Homo sapiens: one gene and its partner. The protein of the gene in region 2 purifies or fractionates together with the protein of the main gene of each other region. This does not show direct contact. Each region holds a gene or a part of one and is shown on either strand. Other genes may lie near its edges.

Evidence for each region.
Region 1: the proteins of PLEKHA5 (region 2) and KCTD3 purify together in Homo sapiens (affinity purification with mass spectrometry; 2 studies listed by BioGRID). This does not show direct contact.

The regions. Positions count from the first base shown.
Region 1 is NC_000001.11:215,575,745-215,586,244, reverse strand, and holds part of KCTD3 (BTB/POZ domain-containing protein KCTD3), read right to left. Parts: intron 10,345-10,500; coding exon 10,271-10,344; intron 8,576-10,270; coding exon 8,517-8,575; intron 8,317-8,516; exon of another isoform or gene 8,255-8,316; coding exon of another isoform or gene 8,245-8,254; coding exon 8,164-8,244; intron 7,246-8,163; coding exon 7,108-7,245; intron 6,337-7,107; coding exon 6,246-6,336; intron 1-6,245. UniProt on the Homo sapiens protein: Accessory subunit of potassium/sodium hyperpolarization-activated cyclic nucleotide-gated channel 3 (HCN3) up-regulating its cell-surface expression and current density without affecting its voltage dependence and kinetics.
Region 2 is NC_000012.12:19,341,345-19,351,844, reverse strand, and holds part of PLEKHA5 (pleckstrin homology domain-containing family A member 5), read right to left. Parts: intron 8,523-10,500; coding exon 8,411-8,522; intron 6,004-8,410; coding exon 5,957-6,003; intron 4,852-5,956; coding exon 4,663-4,851; intron 3,447-4,662; coding exon 3,326-3,446; intron 1-3,325.

The DNA of each region.
Region 1 (10,500 bases), on a different chromosome or scaffold from region 2:
TATTTCCCCAAAGAATAATTTAGTAAAGTCCTCCAAATTTTAAAAAATTTCAGAAACTTTAAAAAAAGATAGTTTTATCTTTCATGTTTCTCTACACACACGCACACACACACAAATGATACTGTCATCTTCTGTGAGTATGAACAATCAGCAAAAATCTGAATTTCAGAATTATTATTCCTTTCAGTTATTAATCAGCTTTTCAGGGTTTATTAACTGAAATGACACATACTGAATCTCTTGCTTTTTGTACTTCAGATGGACAGTCTATCCAGAAACACTGAGTGTATCACATGCATTCCAATACATTAGCACTATTATATAAAAAAGGATAGGGTGCAGGATATCCTCTGAAGACTAGTTTTTAAAGGTCTAAATGCAAAACTCTATGGAACTACAGTTCCATATGACTACCCATATGTAAAAGCTAATGTATTCTTTAATACCTAATTTCTCTAATAAATATCCTGTCAGTTTTTAATAATTCTTTCTGCCCTATCTGAATTTAGGTTTTAAAGAAATGTTTTCTATGCGATTATATGTATAGCAGCCTTCATACATTTAGAGCTTTAGCAGTTACGTAATCATAATAATGAATGAGTTGAACTATGAAGTATCTATTTTTAAACTCAACAAATAATGCAAACATAACTATAAAATTTCTCTTTTGGCTTACCTAAAGAGAATATAGAAGATGAAGGAAAAGAAGCGTTCTTTTGCACACTACCTGACATTCGCTGCAAAAAGCAAACTTAGGTATTCATAAATGATGGTCACCTAAGGGCCTAAATAAAAATACATCAACTTCATTTTCCCTTAAATATGTATGCCAAGTAATACAACTGTAATTCATAAGAATATACAATTGAGCATATTAATTTGAAGAACTAATGATTTCCCTAAACTTCAAAGCAATAGAGAAAAATGTATCAATTTTTCCTAAGCATTGTGTAATTTGTAACCACCCTCTTCAGCCACCAGATGGGATTCATTTGTTAAGATAAACAAATGAAAATACTTAAATACTTACCTAATAAACACTAAAATTTGCTGACATTCTCTTATTCTTTTACTTTCTTAATGAACTTGCTTTCACTTTACTCTAAGGACTCACCCTGAATTCTTTCTTGTGAGAGATCCAAGAACTCTTTTTTGGGGGTCTGGATGAGGACCCCTTTCCAGTAACATCTTCCTGGGAAACCATGAAATGAGATAGTGGAGAGACCCCCAACCCAAAGGAAATAGACTGCAGCACCAATTAGCTGACTTTGGAGTCAAGAACACTTTTCTTTCGAGATTTTGCAGCTTTTAACAACTGAGTAAAGTATACTCTTATAAACAAAATTTGGAGCATATTTCTTTCTCTCTATCTGATTTCTCCAGAATTTGGAAACTATTTGTGAGTATTCTTAACTTACAGCAATATGTAACTACAATAAGAATCTGTTTTCTTTTGTAACAGGACACAATTGGAGAAACTGGTTATTTTACCAAGACTTTGACTGGAATAGCATGCTTTCAGATATGGACTTGTTTAAGGAATCAAATTTGACTCATAGAGCTGATAAAAGCCCCTGGGAAAAACTGGCCACATATCTTGTCTACACGGTCCCTGTACAAGGTTTCTGACCTGTCTGGGGTAAGTAAAGAAAGTCACTTTCTGACAGGCCCAAAAGCCCCAAGTTATCATGAAACCTCAAAAGGAAAGAAACTTACCCAACTCATACAGGTATTTGCAGGCAATGATAAACCCATGGCAAGGCTCAAGGCTTTAAGAAGTCTCATTTGAGATTCTTTATGGATCAAAGTTCTATCAAAGTCAATTTAAAAAGAGCCTATATAGGAACTAATTATTCTTGCTGCACTTTATACAAATAATCAGGCCAAGTATAATAAGACTAAAGCTTATTTTGCAAACAAATCAGTCCTACCATGATTTCTTTAGTAAAAATGAAAGACTGAAAATAGGAAAATTGTTTCAAAAACTATGGTATGCTTTTTATTAGATTTGTCTCATCAGTAGTTTTTGAGTTCTTTCTGCAATTTGGACTCATCCTGCTTATCCTTGTGGACCAAGCAGTGATCTGTGGCTGCTGTTCAGAAGAAACAAGAGGCATGGGTAACACAGAAATCTGGATCAGTATTCTAATTGTGGGCATGTATTGGAATTGGCTAGCACATCAGCTTGGTTCCAACTCCATATCAGCTTGGTTACAACAATTTCCCAGTTCATGAAAAGCCTTCTTATTTAGTTTACTTGGGATAATTTTACTTATTTTGCCTTGTTATTGTAGAATATACTGCTGTTGTTCTCTTTGTGTAGGAATGCAAGATAAGCTTACTCAGTGCTTTCTTAAATCGAACACTTATTAATTTTTCAGTCATCACTTTTTGTCAGAAATCAGAGTTCTCACCATACTGACAGTTTCTAACTGAGCTCTCCTCTACTCTGAATGCAGAAGACCCTAATAGGCAGAAATACCATCATCCCTATTCAGACTGCAGAAGTTACAGAAGATGAATCTTCCTCCCTCTGAAACCCTTAGGATTAAGAGTACCCTTGTAAAAGGGAAGGGGAAAACATGTCAGAGGTGTTCAAACCAGAGTTGAATGGGGACTGAGTAAAATAAGGCTGAGACCTGCTGGGCTGCATTCCCAGGAGGTTAGGCATTCTTAGTCACAGCGTAACAAGGAAGGTCAGCACAAGGTAAAGGTCACAAAGATCCCGCTGACAAAACAGGACGGAGTAAAGAAGCCAGCCAAAACTGAAACCAAGATGGCAACAAAAGTGACCTCTGGTCGTCCTCACTGCTCATTATACGCTAATTATAATGCATTATCATGCTAAAAGACACTCTCACCAGCCCCATGATAGTTTACAAATGACATCTAATGTCTGGAAGTTACCCTATATGGTCTAAAAAGGGGAGGAACATTCAGTTCTGGGAATTGCCTGCTCCTTTCTGAAACACTCATGAATAATCCACCCCTTATTTAGTATATAATCAAGAAATAACTGTAAGTATACTCAGTCAAGCAGCCCTCAGGGCTGCTCTGGCTATGGAGTAGCCATTCTTTTATTCCTTTACTTTCTTAATAAACTTGGATTCACTTAAAAAAAAAAACTATATAATCTCATCTTTTACAGACATATTACTTCTAAGTTGTTTTTCTCTATAGTAATTAGGGTATTACACAATAAAGAGATGTCAAAAAAGGATAAAAGAATCAGGACAGCATATTTAAAAATAACTATAACAACTACAGAATTTAACTCTTAATAAGATATGTGAATTTACCTGTTTTTTAAAAAATTACAAAGAAGGTACATATTTGCTCTATAACTTTCCATACAAGTAATACATTTAAAATATGTAGAACAAGGCCAGGCACAGTGGCTCACGCCTGGAATCCCAGCACTTTGGAAGGCTGAGGCGGGTGAATCACTTGAGATCAGGAGTTTGAAAACAGTCTGGCCAACATGGTGAAACCCCGTCTCTACTAAAAATACAAAAATTGGCCAGGTGTGGTGGTGCACACCTGTAGTCCCAGCTACTCAGGAGGCTGAGGTGGGAGAATTGCTTGAACCCAGGAGGCAGGTGTTGCAGTGACCCGAGATCACGCCACTGCACTCTAGCCTGGGTGACAGTGCAAGACTCTGTCTCAAAATCTCAAAAACAAAACAAAACAAAAAATATATAATAATAAATAAAACAAAATATAAAACAAGAATATGCTCTGTTATTTCACCTCTCCATCATCTTACTGCTGCCTAGTGAACCAACCCTCTGGTTAAGACAGCTATGCGAAGAATAGAGTTACGTCTAGTTATTTCCTACATGAAGACCTCAATAAAATACAGTAGAGAGGACATGCCCTGTGAGATTTTGAAACTTATTATGAACATACTTCACCTCAAGTTGTATGAGAATAGACATATGTCTTAAGGAAATGAGAGAACTGAAAAACAGATCCAAGTATATACACACACATAAAGCAAGATAAAATGGGCTATCAGATTCACTGACAAAGAATGATTTACGTAATAAATTGTCAGAACATAATTACCTACCCACTGAGAAGAAAATAAATCCTTAAATCTCATACCACATACAAAAAAGTAAACTCCACAAGGATTAAAGATCTAAAGTGGAATATAAGCCCCAAGGGGGCAGCAATTCACACAACTACTCTTCGTTAATAGAAGTAACACTGTCATAAACTCAGCAAGAAAAAGGGACATAAACATAAAACCTAACCATGTAGAAAATTAGTGAAGCTAGGAGAACATCATACAGGTCTTCACTGTACTACTCTTTTTTTAAAGGTTTTGTAACTTACTGATACAAAAACTTGAGGAAAAATAACTTGTAAAAAAGATTACACTTTTAAACAGTTTAAATATTTTTCTTTCTTTTGAAATCTTTTTATTGCCATTGTGTTGAATGATTTAACTATATGTGAGGAAATCCAAATATGTCCTCAATTGTCTTCCTTCGTCACTTTACATGAGTATATTGCTCTGAAATGTCAGACACTTGGTGAAAGCACAGAAAGATCGTGATCAATGCAAACGCAAAGACTGGAAAATGTAATAGCATCATCCTCCATACAATTATTACCCAGTGAGTTAAATTTTGCGTAATAATGTGGTGGTTCTGGAAAAGAGCAATCTTTAGTATTGTGTACAGTAACAAAACGGAAGTTATGCTGTTACACTTGGATCACTTATCATTTCACAATTCTTCTGGAATTCCTTATTGACAAAAATATGTACATAATATGTAAACAAGGGTCTACAAGTCACCTCAATTCAAATATATAAGATGATAAATTCAAAACAATGCTTCCTAAAAAAAAATTACTTTACCAAATTAGTCTTGCCTCATACAAAACCATCCCCAAAGAAATTATGCAAAAAACAATTTCCATGCTATTTCATAATTAAAATTACAAATCCACAAAACACTTTTTTTAAAAATTTGTTTATTTATTTATTGAGACAGAGTCTTGCTCTGTTGCGCAGGTTGGAGTACAATGGTGAGCTATCAGCTCACTGCAACCCCCACCTCCTGGGTTCAAGTGATTCTCCTGCCTCAGCCTCCCGAGTAGCTGGGATTACAGGCATGCATCACCACACCTGGCTAATTTTTGTATCTTCAGTAGAGATGGGGTTTCACCATGTTGGTCGGGCTGATCTTGAACTCCACCCATCTCGGCCTCCCAAAGTGCTGGGATTACAGGCGTGACCCACCGTGCCCAGCCAAAACACTCTTAAAACATAAAAGTCTGCACTTAATCATTACTACAAGGAAAATATAAACCTGAGATTACTGATATAAACAGCACTTACCAGACATGCCAAACCTTTCATAAATTCAGATTTTTAAAAAAAAAATACATCTGGGATTCTTTAAACTATATCTGTAAACTTTAGAAGACATTTTAGATATTTTTCAGCTTATTGTGACTATTTTTCTTAACCGAACTCAACAGTGATAAACAAATAGTTTATGTATCTTTGATTTTTCTGCAATTAAATGAAATAATAATCTAAGCTAGTATATTCCAACCACTTTTGTGCTTCTACACCATTCTCTGTCATCAACATTTCTCAATGAGTACAGTGATTTTGAACTAAGAGTCCTATCACTTTCCCAATTAAAAAAAAAAAAATCACCGGTCTACACTATTCTTCATTGCTTCTCAGGCTCTGAGAATGTAAGCATTAGTAAAACCAAACTACTTCTTTGTAAGTTTCACATATTAGATATTAAACTATACCACTTGTGCAATAACTGTCCTGCTTTACTACCTCACTTCCCAAAATGTGGTATTTATGACCAATGTACTCTCCCTTGCTATAGAATACAAAACACTGAATCATTAGAGATAGACCATCAGGGAGCTCACATTAATAATCCTGTCTAACATCATTATATACTACAGTCTCAGAAGCTAGGTATAAGCAATAAATAATACATCAGGATATCTCAGTTACATGACAATTCACACTTGTCTGCTAAATGTTTACAACAGATAAAGGCTATCAGAAACATTTACCAAATTAGCTGTGAAAATAAAAGTACACTAAATCTTAATCAGATGATACAGACATGGGTAAAATATGCAGGGAAAAAACTTGATGACTAAAAAAAAATAGCTTTTCAATCTAAAAATATAAAATCACAATTAATTTTCAAACTGCCACCTGTAAAAGCAAAGCATTATTAATTATACACTACCTGTAACACACAGCAAAATGGGCATATGCAGCTACAATCCAGTTGTGATGGCCAGCTACTATTAGCACCTTTCGTGGATCCACAGGAAATCCTGTTGATTTTGGAAAAAGAAATATTTTACATTCTAAACCGGGGGTTGGCAAATTACAGCCACCAGGCCAGTTTCAGCCTTCTGCCTGTTTTGGTTAATAGTTTTGTTAAGAGCCGGGCACAGTGGCTCACACCTGTAATCCCAGCACTTTGGGAGGCCGAGGCGGGCGGATCATGAGGTCAGGGGATCGAGACCATACTGGCTAACACGGTGAAACCTCATCTCTATTAAAAATACAAAAAATTAGTCTGGCATGGTGGCGGCCGCCTGTAGTCCCAGCTACTCCGGAGGCTGAGGCAGGAGAATGGCGTAAACCCAGGAGGCAGAGCTTGCAGTGAGCCAAGATGGCACCACTGCACTCCAGCCTGAGCGACAGAGCGAGACTCCGTCTCAAAAAAAAAAAAAAAAATAGTTTTGTTAGAACCCAGCCATGCTTACTTGTTACATATTGTCCATTATGTGTTCATGCTACAATGGCAAAGTTGAGTAGGTCTGACAGAGAACACGTGGCCCACAAAGCCTAAAATATTTAATCTCTGGCTCTTACCAGATAAATTTTGGCAACCCTGTTCTAAAGATTCAGAGAAGATAGAAGATTACACAACATTTTAAATAAAAATTAAGTGTTAAATGAGACCTTTCCAAGATATAAATGATAAATCTGGATAAAAAAGGAGATGAGGCAAAAATCTTTAAAAGTAATTACTCAATATCACCCAGCACTAAAAACATACGTATTTTTCTTTTTCTATTTCTGTAATCTTTGCTTACCTAGCCTAACAGTTTCTTCTCCCGTTCCAGAGAGAACAGGCTGTGTACCATTTCCCCGGGCTTCACCTTCTGTAGAATTTAGACCATTCCTAGAATCAGCAGATCTGACTGTGTTGTTTATTTTACGACTAGGAATACCTATAAAGAGAAGAAGAAAACAAATACATTCCTAAGTTCACCTTTCAAAAATTAAAAATATCACATTGTGACAAAGAAACAAAAATGTGAATTTCATTAAAGCCGAAATACATCTTCCAATATAGCAAATTATTACAAATAATTTAATTACAATTAAAAAATAAAATGAAAATGAAAAAAACAAAGACAAAGACAAAATTCTGTCAACAGATTTCTGGTATTGTCATACTGTTTACAATAAATAAGCTTTAGGTTACTGAATTAATGGGTAATTAATTCAGTCTGCCAGCCACTCTTTACAATTATGGTACAGGTATTATGTGTTAGGTACTATGTAATAATTTAACTGCTTTAGAACTGAAATTCCCCATACTTTCAAACATTTTTTATTTGACAGGGGAACATTTTTTAAAATGAAATCTTGCTCAGAAGTCCATTATAACACAGGTAAAATCAGGCTCTTCTAACTAAAGTGGGGCTGAGGTGACACTGACTTATCTCTGCAGAATTCCTTAAATTTTGCAAAAAAGCAGTTTGACAACCAGTGCTCTAACATATGGGTCAGCAAACTATGGGCCATGGAAAATCCAGCCCAATCAATGCTATTTATGTAAATAAAGTTGTAGTGGTTACAGTTAAACCTAGTCTTCATGTAGTATACACAGCGGAGTTAAGTGGCTGTCACAGAGATCCTCTGGCTCACAAAATCTATCTGGCTCTTTACAGAAAAAGTTTGCCAAACCCCTGCTCCAATATATAATGTGACTTAATTTCTATAAAAATCAAAAGTTCTTACCATTTCTAATAGATTTATAGACAAAAAACTCAATAATCAAGGAGCAGTTTTTCCTATTCATATGCTTGTACTTGCTTAATGATACAAGGAATTTTTTAAAAGATTTAATAAAGTGAAAATACCTGGTGGGGGCAAGTAACCATGAAAAAGGACACTGCCACAAGAGGAACGCTCCAATTCTTCACATAAGAGAAGCCTTCTTACTAAAAACATTTCAAAGCAAACTTGTCAAGAGTACATGCAAACAGAAAAACAGTACTCCATTTTTATTTTCTCTAGTTCAAGAGGATAAGGAAAGAAAAGGAAAATTTTAATTAAGTCAGAGTTGACAACATCTTTTTACTATGAAAATCCACAAAAACTAAGCACTGAACAAGTCCATCAAAAATTAGGACCTGATATAAACACATTTCATTTAGGGCAACTTTCATACATGAGTCAAATCATAAACACCAAATATTAAAAGAGCACATACCTAATGGAGTGATCCCGTAAAATTCTGCTTCATGCCTGAGAACATTAATACTCACTCCCCTACAAAGAAACAAATGATGTAAATTCTCTAACACTGGAAACCTGTATTATCATCTGACATGAAAGGAAAAAATTCTAGGTTCTTCATGTATATAGTCATAAGGCTTTAAAAATTATTTTCCTCCTAATACTCTTTATTTCTATTATCCTTAATCATTAAAAAGTGTAAATAAAAACTGCATGTGAACAAAAATATTCTGTTATCTACTTAAAAACCATTCATATATATACATATATATGAATTGGGTCACTAAAGGAGAGATTAGGGCTCTATCAGGCTAGTACAAATAAATTGTCTAGAAGGCAAACGATAGAATGGAAACCATTCTTTTATGGCATTAGTTGCTTTTAACTTTTTATCGCAATTATTTCTATACATATCTATCTTAATCTCCCCAATTACACTATAAATTCCCTGCGAGCATGATCTATTTCTGATCTATGTTTGTATACCTCACAGTGCCTAGCATAGTGCTTGTATAAAATAGTTATGTAATAAATATTTGTTGAACAAATAAAATAGAAAAAAAAAAAAGACTAGCCTTGGGAAGGGCTATGTTATCCAGATGAAATGATGCTACTTCATAGTAGTAAAGTTAAGTAACATGAAATAAAATTTTTAAAAAATGGAAGATTCAGAACTTATAATACTAATAATTCATCTTAGGTTTCAGTTGTAATTTGTCCTTATTTTAAAAATATTCCCCAGCCTTGATAAATATATACAATTACTATGTTAAATTGTTTTTATTTGTGAAACTGGTTATGACTAGTTTAACATTAAAAATGCTTAAAACTTTGTGTCTGGGGGCGGTGGCTCACACCTGTAATCCCAGCACTTTGGGAGGCCAAGGCGGGTGGATTACGAGGTGAGGAGATGGAGACCATCATGACTAAAACGGTGAAACCCCATCTCTACTAAAAATACAAAAAAATTAGCCGGGTGTGGTGGCGGGTGCCTGTAGTCCCAGCTACTTGGGAGGCTAAGGCAGGAGAATGGCGTGAACCCGGGAGGTGGAGATTGCAGTGAGTCTGGGTGACAGAGTAAGACTCAGTCTCAAAAAAAAAAAGCTTCAAACTTTCTTATTCTATTTCGAAACTATTTGTGTTAACAGTACAGCAGTACTGGCCAGAGGCATGATCATAACTCACTGCAGCCTCAAACTCCCGGCCTCAAGGGATCCTCCTGCCTCAGCTTCTTCTCTAGAGTAGCTGGGATTATAGGCGTGTACCACCACATCCAGTTTCAGTGTGAGGAAACTTTTAATCAAAGTCTTAGTAAAAAAAAAAAAACCTTTTCTGGCTGGGCGTAGTGGCTCATTCCTGTAATCCCTGCACTTTGGGAGGCTAAGGCGGGGAGACTGCCTGAGCTCAGGCGTTTGCAATCAGCCTGGGCAACACAGTGAAACCCCTTCTCTACTAAAATACAAAAAATCAGCCGGGCATGGTGGCATGTGCCTACAGTCCCAGCTACTCGGGAGGCTGAGGCAGGAGAATTGTTTGAACCTGAAAGGCGGAGGTTGCAGTGAGCAGAGATCATGCCACTGCACTCCTGCACTCCAGCCTGGGCAACAGAGCAAGACTGCAACTCAAGGAAAAAAAAAAACAAACAAAAAAAACCTTTTATTTCATAAAACATATTAAAAACACATATTTATCAGTAAGAATTTACTTTAAAAAGAGTGCATTTCTTACCTTAAGTCTAGTTCTTTTGTCCGAAGAAAATTTAAAATGGGTGCAAATGCTGCTGGATCTCTATCAATAAATATCTGTAAAAAAGAGAACAGTTTTATTTTCAAATTACAAATTAATCTTTTAACTTTAATATCTGTAACACTAATAGGGAATGAAGTCTTAATTACTTAAATACTACATTTCCTTGTTTCCACTCTTAAACTTTAATGTTTCTAAAATTGGAATGTAGT
Region 2 (10,500 bases):
GTCTCGGCCTCCCAAAATGCTGAGATTACAGGTGTGAGCCACTGCGCCCTGCCTTGGCCAGTCTTTTTAAGTGAAGCATTCAGTCCAATTATATTTGTTGTAATTGCCAATGTATTTAGATTTATTTCTAACAATGTATTTTTTTGCTTTGCATTTTCTCCAGCTTCTTTTCTTTTTTGGATTATCTTTCTCTCCTTCCAGAGTCCTGCTGTGTTGTTCAGGCTGAAGTGTAAGTGGCACGATCACAGCTCTCTGCAGTCTCAACAATTTCTTTTATCTTAAACCCTAGCATGCATACTTAAACTTATGAAAGTCTGAAGTTAGTCAAAATCATTACCATGATTCAGAACAAAACAAAGATGTTAAAGCGTATTAATATCAATAAACTTCCTCCTCATTTATATGCTATTTTTGTCAAATAGTTGTTGTATATGCTTAAAAAAAAGCTAAATACATTTTTTACTTTATAAAATAGAGATGAGGTCTGGTTATGTTGCCCAGGCTGGTCTTGAACTCCTGGACTCAAGCAATCCATCTGCTTCGGCCTCCCAAAGTGCTGAGATTACAGGAATGAGCCATCATTCCCAGCCCATTTAAAGTCTTTGTTGTGGCCAGGTGTGGTGGCTCACGCCTGTAATCCCAACACTCTGGGAGGCTGAGGCAGGCAGATTGCTTGAGCCTAGAAGTTTGAGACAAGCCTGGGCAACATGGTGAAACCCTGTCTCTACAATAAATACAAAAATTAGCCAGGTGTGGTGGCACACGTGTGTAGTCTCAGCTACTTGGCAGGCAGAGGAGGAAGGAGGCTACAGTGAGCCATGATCTCACCACTGTACTCCAGCCTGGGCCGATGGTGAGATCCTGTCTCAAAAAAAAAAAAAAAAAAAAAGACTTTGAATAAGGAGACAGGATTAGGATGAGAAAGAAAAGGTGTATAAATATTAAATTTTCAAGATGCCAGTATTTTTAAATTTAAAAAACGACATTAGATAACCTAGAAAAATATTCCAACAATGAAAAAAGCTATGTGAACATTACTACCACTTAGGTGTTTTCTTGTTTGTTTGCTTTTGTGTTTTTTTTTGAGATGGAGTCACTGTCTAGGCTGGAGTGCAGTGGCACGATCTTGGCTCACTGTAACCTCTGCCTCCCAGTTCAAGTGATTCTCCTGCCTCTGCCTCCCGAGTAGCTGGAATTACAGGTGCCCGCCACCACACCTGGCTAATTTTTGTATTTTTAGTAGAGATGGGGCTTCGCCATGTTGGCCAGGCTGGTCTTGAACTCCTGACCTTGTGATCCGCCCGCCTCTGCCTTCCAAAATGCTGGGATTATAGATAGGCGTGAGCCACCAAGCCTGGCCTCACTTTGATGTTTTTCAAACTTTACTTAGTGATCCTTTAGCAGATTACAAAAATCAGTCCAGTGGGTTATGATAAGCACTTATTTTTCTAAAAAGTTTTACATTTTGTCACACTTACATTATCTCTGCATAAATACATACACATTCTTTCTGGCGAATCCTTTAAAAGTGGCAGATGCTTTTGTCCTAAGTGTTTCAGAATTCACATACTACATTCTACTACACAACCACAATATCACAATCACACTGTTAGCTAATATCTAGAACATGTTTAAATTTCCATTAATTGTGCTACTTTAGAGATTCTTCTTTTAAACCATGGTCCAATCAAGTTTCAAACAGTGCGATATATCTATCTGTTATTTTTTTGTGTGTGACGGAGTCTCACTCTGTCACCCAGACTGGAGTGCAGTGGCACGATCTTGGCTCACTGCAACCTCTGACTCCTGGGTTCAAGTGATTCTCCTGTCTCAGTCTCCTGAGTAGCTGGGACTACAGGTGTGTGCTACCATGCATGGCTAATTTTTTGTATTTTTAGTAGAGACAGGGTTTCACCATGTTAGCCAGGATGGTCTCCACCTCCTGACCTTGCGATCTGCCCGCCTCCACCTCCCAAAGTGCTGGGATTACAGGAGTGAGCCACCGTGCCCAGCCAAACTTTTGTATTTTTAGTAGAGATGGGGTTTCACCATATTGGCCAGGCTGGTAGAGTTTCCATTTCTTGGGAGAGTTTTTTTTTTTTTTCTGTTTCTGGTTGTTGTTGTTGTTGCTGTTGTTGTTGATCTCCTGACCTCAGGTGATCCGCCCACCTCGGCCTCCTGAAGTGCTGGGATTACAGGCGTTAGCCACCACCCCTGGCCTATCTATCTTTTTAATCTAGGATAGTTCTCTCTCTACTCTTTTCTTTACGCAATTGCCTTCTAGAAAAATGACCAGCATTAAGAAAAAAATCAGAGTATACATTACAGAAATATTATTTTAGAATTTACTTTGTTGATATTGTGTGAAAATTTGTTTCAGCCATTAATACCTTATGCATAATTTTAAACACACACACAGAAAAGACCCTGTCCAGGTGTGGTGGCACATGCTTGTAATCCCAACACCTTGGGAGGCTGAGGTGGAAGGAATGCTTGATCCCCAGAGTTCAAGACCAGCTTAGGCAACACGGCAAGACCTTGTCTCTACAAATACTTAAAAAATTAGTTGGGTATGGTGGTGTGTGCCTGTAGTCCCAGCTACTTGGAAGGCTGAAGTGAGAGGATCACCGAGTCTGGGAGGTCGAGGCTACAGTGAGCCATGTTTGCTCCAGTACAGCAGCTCAGGTGACAGAGTGAGACCTCACACACAACAACACATCACAAACAACAACAACAACAACAACAACAACAACAAAAACAACCACCAGAAACAGAAAAAAAAAAAAAGAAAACTCTCCCAGGAAATGGGAAACTTTAAAGTTTGACATAAACTTATTTCTTAGTAAAACCTAATCTGATGTGATGTCTTTTATTTTTATTTATGAGACGAAGTCTTGCTCTGTTGCCCAGGCTGGAGTGCAGTGGTGCGATCTCGGCTCACTGCAGCCTGCACCTCCTGGGTTCCAGTGATTCTCCTGCCTCAGCCTCCCGGGTAACTGGGATTCAGGCACGTGCCACCATGCCCAGCTAATGTCTTTTATTTTTAGCATTTATTTATGCCACTTGGAATGAATATTGTAGAAATAGTGTTAAAAAAAGGGTGCTGCCTCATACCTAGCTGAGATGACATATATCATTTATGGGCCATTTTATCTTTTAATATCTGAAAATTTCTTAATTTAGAAACTCATCAGAGTCCAAAGGTTTCAGATAAAGGGTTGGACTCATATATGAGTCAACATGTAAATGGAATTTACTACTATTTTGGCAGTAAATTGTCTTCAAAAACAAAAACCAAGAGGTAAAACATATTACAAATGCTGACCTTTAACAACTGAAGTTTCTATCTCTGAAACAGGTTCTGATTTTTCTTCTCCATTAGATTCATCAACTTCTGCCACTGTTGTTAACTCTGGTTCACTCTTGTAGAGTCTATAATCTGGACCCTTGAAAGGAAGACATGTAATTACCCTAAAAAACTGCTAAAAGTTTCTTTTAAAATGTTTACTGCTAAAGACACAAATCAAACTCTAAACATTAGTAGCCCTAGTGAGCCATCTGGGATATAACACAAATAATACCTATGTCACAATTACGTGGAAAGAAGAAATTTGAGAAATTTTTAAGTGGCAAAACTTCGTTTTAATATTAAGAATATTTCTGGCCGGGTGCAGTGGCTCACACCTGTAATCTCAGCACTTTGGGAGGCCAAGGTGGGTGTATCACCTGAGGCCAGGAGTTTGAGACCAGCCCAGCCAACATGGTGAAACCCTGTCTCTACTAAAAATACAAAAATTAGCTGGGCATGGTGGTGTGCGCCTATAATCCCAGCCATTCAGAAGGCTGAGGCAGGAGAATCACTTGAACCTGGGAGGCGGAGCTTGCAGTGAGCTGAGATTGCTCTACTGCACTCCAGCCTGGGAAAGAGTGAGACCCTGTCTCAAAAAAAAAAAAAAAAAAAAGAATATTTCTGTTCCTCTTAGGAACAAAGTCACATTTTTATGATGGAATAATTGAGGGCTAAAAATAACTATATTAATTCAATAAATTTTCATTCACAAGGTAGTCTAAGTGAGGCCCATCCCAGCACTAAAATTCCTGTCACAGACATTTTGTTGTTCTCAAATTAGCTCAATTCTAATTTCCTTTTTCTCTTTGCTTATTATATCCTACATTATTTGCTTAACCCTAAACGTATTTCCCATTTTCAGGGGTGACATCTCTCCTTAGCAACATCCACATCTTTGAGTAGTTTTCCTAGACCAAAATGTCCACATCCCAGCCCCTTTACCATCCCTAGTAACGGTCTTTTTCTTTCTCCCTTCTTTCTGATCTGAAGGTATAATCTTGCCTCCAATACCCTAAAATGGTATATCTAAAATACGGCTGCTTCATCATGGGAAAAGTTACCACTTTATGAAAATATGAAAAATGCTATGAAATTATAAAATATTAAAATTATAAAAATATTAAAAATGAGAATAGCAAAACCAAAACAGGAAAGACACAAATGATAAAGTCATATATAAACTAAAAACTGCTGGCCAAAAATGAGGTTATAAAGGTTATAATAAAAAAAAAGTTTGAGTGTAAAATAAATTAATTTTCAAAAATGAGAGGACATGTAGGATTGATTATTCTGTGGCTATTCCAGCCACTTACACAGTGAGATCCATTTCTTGGATATCCTTGAACTTGATACATCTTCTTTTCTTCAGGCAGATGAACTGGGCCCCTGCTATAACAGAGCAAGGAGCTGCTATCACTGGGCAGAGGGGGGATTATGGGAGGCTGCTCTGTAAAGTCATAGGACCGAGGAAGTGGAGGACGAGGTGGGACTACTTCCTCTTCCTAAAGATTGTAGAACAGTCACCTTATTTAGATAAGCAGATTGAATTAAGCATATCTAAATTCTTTGCAATGGTATATTAACTTAAATTTACTTTAAGATACTAAAAGGGACACTGCCAAGCCAAAAGTCTAATAATGAAAAGTAAAATCAAAAATTTTTTATCATAGCCAATAATTGGAATTTAACATATAATTACATCTGATTCTTTCCTGTAACATATAGGTTAGCTTCACACTGAAACTCAACATTGAAAGAGATTACTATTTAAAACTAATTACTGGGTTTCATTTTAAAACTAGAAGGAAAGAACTGATTTTAAAATCCTATTCTTATATTTTCACAATTTATCTTATTTATTTATTTGGTAGAGATGGGGTCTCGCTATAGTGCAGTGATTTGATCATACATAGCTCACTGCACCTTTGAACTCCTGGGCTCAAGGGATCCTCCTGGCTCAGCCTCCCGAGTAGCTGGGACCACAGGCACACCATGCCCGTCTAATTTTTCAATGTTTTCTAGAGATGGGGGTCTTGCTATGTTTACCAGGCTGGTCTCAAACTCCTGGGCTCAAGACATCCTCCTGCCTTGGCCTCCTAAAGTGCTGGGATTACAGGCATGAGCCACTGCACCTGGCCCCCCAATTTTTAAGAGAGGAAAAAAAAAAGTTACCTCTTTGGTTTTTATACGAAATTCAAAATAATAGATTCTTTTGGTTAGGTTGACAGTATCTCTTTGTAGTTGTAATTTCTTTATGCTACGCATGACATACAACCAACTTATCTATCGATCATCCTATAAATTTTACATAGTATAAGAAACAATGATAAGTATTCAAACATTACTTAGATTAGAAAAAGTATGACAACGTTAAAATTCTAACAGATAAAAAGCAGAGATTCCATTTTTTTGCATTAAAAAAGGGAAGAAAAATCACATATTAGAAGCACCAAATTACTGATCCAATAAAATTTCAAGACTAAAACAATATCTGTTCAATATATTTAAAAAATATTTTTGTTATTAAGATTAGAGAAGACAATTACTTCTAATTCATCTCTTAAGCATTAAAAGTAATTTATAATTAGAAAAACAATCCAAACTTACCTCATTTTTGTACTTAACTGTTGAGAAAGGCTTTGATCCTATCATACCTGGGAATATTAGAAAACGTAACTATATTAAACATATCTTTCTAATACTATAAAAAAAGAACAATTTCTTTTGTTTTTTTGAAATGAAGTCTTGCTGTTTGCCCAAGCTGGAGTGTAGTGGCGTGATCTCAGCTCACTGCAACCTCCGCCTCCTGGGTTCAAGCAATTCTTGTGCCTCAGCCTCTCGTAGCTGGGACTACAGGCGTGCGCCACCACGCCCAACTGATTTTTTTTATTTTTAGTAGAGATGGGGTTTCACCGTGTTGGTCAGGCTGGTCTTGAACTCCTAACCTCAAGTGATCCACCTGCCTCGGCCTCCCAAAGTGCTGGGATTACAGGCGTGAGCCATGGCGTCCAGCCAAAAAAAGAACAATTTCATGTATTTTTTTTTAAATTTATTTTTATTTTTATTTATTTTTATTTTTTATTTTTATTTTTTTTTGAGACAGAGTTTCGCTCTGTCGCCCAGGCTGGAGTGCAGTGGCAAGATCTCGGCTCACTGCAACCTCTGCGTCCCAGGTTCAAGCAATTCTTCTGCCTCAGCCTCCCGAGCAGCTGGGACTATAGGTGCACGCCACCATGCATGGCTAATTTTTGTATTTTTAGTAGAGATGGGGTCTCAACAAGTTGGCCAGCCTGGTCTCGAACTCCTGACCTCAGGTGATCTGCCCGCCTTGGCCTCCCAAAGTGCTCGGATTACAGGCATGAGCCACTGCGCCCGGCTTATTTTTATTTCTTTATTGTTTTTCACTCTGTTGCCCAGGTTGGAGTGCAGTGGCGTGATCTCTGCCTCCCGGGTTCAAGAGATTCTCTTGCCTCAGACTTCCAAGTAGCTGGGACCACAGGTGCGTACCACCACACCTGGCCAATTTTTGTACTTTTTTTTTTTTTTTTCAGTAGAGCCGGGGTTTTGTCATGTTGGCCAGGTTGGTCTTGAACTCCTGACCTCAAGTGATCCGCCTGCCTCGGCCTCCCAAAGTGCTGGGATTACAGGCGTGAGCAACCACGCCTGGCCGATTTCACATATTTTAAATGAAGTCTTCAGTTTCTAATCATTCACTTATTGTTTTCAGAATTGGAAAGCAATTACATTAAAAAGGCAACAAATATTTAAACAAGAGTATGGGGAAATGGGTTTTCTCAAACATTACTGGTATTAACATAATGTGAAATAATCCTTCAGGAGGGCATTTTGGCCGCAGTTATCCAAATGGAAAACATGTGCTTATTTCTCACCTTTTAAAATCCATTAAGTACTAACATATGTGTTTAGTTGTATGTATTAATAATGTTCACTATGGCATGGCTTATGACAGCATTCATAAAAAACTCTGGAAACAACATACATTATCCATCAATATGGAAATGGATAAATATATTACAGTTCCCTTATACAATGGATTCTTACACTGCATTGTTATGGAGAAAAAAGCAAATTATTGAAAAATAGATATAGGATGATCCCAGTTCTTGTTGTGGGGATAAAACTTCTAAAGTGTAAACATTGTGGATATTTATAATTATACACACAAGACAATAATTATTTTTGTTTAGGTATGGTTGACAGAGCTTTCACTTTTTACTTTATAAACCTGTGCTCTGATTCAATGTTAAGAGTGCCTGTTCAGAAAAATGCATTAAAATAACAAAAGAAACTCAATTATATATGTCATTCCATTTAGACATTCAGTCATGTGCCACATACCAATGTTTTGGTCAGCAACAGACTACATATACGACAGTGGTCCCATAAGATTATAATGCAGCTGAGAAAATTTTTTTTTTTTTTTTTGGGACAGTTTCCCTCTGCTGCCCATGCTGGAGCACACTGGCATGATCTTGGCTCACTGCAACCTCCACCTCCCGGGTTCAAGCGATTCTCCTGTCTAAGCTTCCTGAGTATTTGGGACTACAGGCATGCGCCACCATGCCTGGCTTTTTTTGTATTTTTAGTAGAGACAGGGTTTCACCACGTTGGCCAAGCTGGTCTTGAACTCCTGACCTCAGGTGATCTGCCCACCTCAGCCTCCCAAAATGCTGGGATTACAGGTGTGAGCCACTGTGCCCAGCCAGAGCTGAGAAATATCTATTGCCTAGTTGTTGCCCTCATGTCAGAGTGTAACACATTACCTTTTCTATGTTTAGATATACAAATAACATTGTGTTACAACTGTCTACAGTATTCAGTACAGTCACATGCTGTGCAGGTTTGCAACCTGGGAGCAATAAGCTATATACCACATAGCCTAGGTGTGTAGTAGGCCATACAACTAGATTTGTTTAAGTACACTCTGATTGTACAACACAATCACCTAACAATGCATTTCTCAGAATGTAATCTGTCACCAAGCGACACATGACTGTAATACTGTGGTCAGTCACAAAATAAAATGCAAAGCTAATTTACCTATTTCTGTAGTACCTCTTTGCTGCTTATGTTTACTCAGCCCTTCCATGACATCCTGAATTCGCCAAAGTTCTTTCTGAATCTGTGCACGCTGAATTCCTGCTGATTCCGTCTATCAGTAAAAATGGATAGACCATATATAAGAAAAAAAATCATTCACTGAAGTTAAATGATTATATATTAATTATATAAATTACATCTAAAAATGCAAATTGCAGTGAATTAAGTGTTACGAATATTTAATATGATTGATGTGACTCTCCCAATTTTGCAAGTCCAGTGGCAAATATAAAAGACTGAGCAGAGCAAGAAAAATATTTAATTTTCATACTTAAATATACTATTTTAAATCTTTCCAATAAGCTTTGTCTTACATTATTTATGATACCAGGAAGGCATATTGATTAAAAGGGACCCAAAATGGAAAATACAAACAGAGAGAATGAAAACAGAGCAGAAACAAACCCCAAAAGAAAAAATAATTTCTGGGAGGGGGAGATGTGGCAGGGCATTGGGGAATGGGTGAGAAATGGAAGGTGTACTAACTTCCTAGGTTCTAGAACATAAAAACAACAACAAAGGTACAACTAACAAAATATATCAAGATGAATTTTGACTGACAGAGTTTAAATGTATTTTTTTATTTTTATTTTTTTTTGAGACAGAGTCTTGCTCTGTCGCCCAGGCTGGAGTGCAGTGGCAAGCTCTCAGTTCACTGCAGCCTCTGCCTCCTGGGCGCAAGTGATTCTGCTGCCTCAGCTTCCTCAGTAGTGGGGATTACGGCACGTGCTATGCCATAATTTTTGTATTTTGTGCAACGACATAATCTCAGCTCACTGCAAACTCTACCTCCCAGGTTCAAGCAATTGCCCTGCCTCAGCCTCCCGAGTAGCTAGGATTACAGGCATGTGCCACCACACCCGGCTAATTTTGTATTTTTAGTAGAGATGGGGTTTCACCATGTTGGCCAGGCTGGTCTTGAACTCCTGACCTCAGGTGATCCGCTCTCCTCAGCCTCCCAAAGTGCTGGGATTACAGGTGTGAGCCACCGCGCCCGGCCAATTTTCTTACTTCTAAAATTCCACATCATGCCCTCAGGTTAAATACACTAACTGAAACCAAAATAAGATTACATTGGTTTTCTCTGAGATTCTATTAGAAATCTATGACTCTTATTCATAAATAGGGTAATAATAACACCATTCTGGATAATACTAAACACTATTCTAGGAATGTAACTTTATTTTTAAAAATAGGCAATGACATACAAAAACTGTCACATTGCCTAGAACAATACTTTCTTTGGCTGAGTATCAGTTATTAATGACTATAGATATTAGAATATAATCAGTATTGCATCAATATGCTAAAAAAGTCCTCTAATGGGTAGAAATATGTTTTCAGCCAGGCACAGTGGCTCACACCTATAATCCCAGCACTTTGGGAGGCTGAAGTGGGTGGATTGCTTAAGCTCAGGAGTTCAAGACCTGCCTGGGCAACACAGAAAAACCCCATCTCTACCAAAAATACAAAAACTTAGCTGGGCGGGGTGGTGTATGTCTGTGGTCCCAGCTACTTGGGAGGCTGAGGTGAGAGGATCACTTGAGCCTGGGGGAAGAGGTTGCAGTGAGCCAAGATCGTGCCACTGTCCTCCAGCCTAGGTGACAGAGTGAGACTCTGTCACAGGGGGAAAAAAAAAGCAATATGTTTTCAAAGTCTTCCAAGCACTTGGGAGTTGATCAAAAGATTAAAAAAAGAAAAAGAAAAAACTCAAGAAAAGTCTATAAGCCTAAAGACTATGAATTAATGCTGCTCCAAAAAGGCACTACATAACCTAAGTTATCTAGTTTTCCAAGCTACAGCCTGGAAGCATCAAAAAGTAAAAAAAAAGAAAGTACCCATGCAAGAGCCAAACACAACGACAGCCCAGAGATGTAAATACTGACACAGAGGATGGGAAGGTCACTATAAATAACAGATCCTTGCACATCTATATACAACATGTATTACTTTCATAAAATTTAAAAGATATATATATGTATAGACACATTTTTGCCAATCTGAAACGGTATACAATGCAAATCTAATTT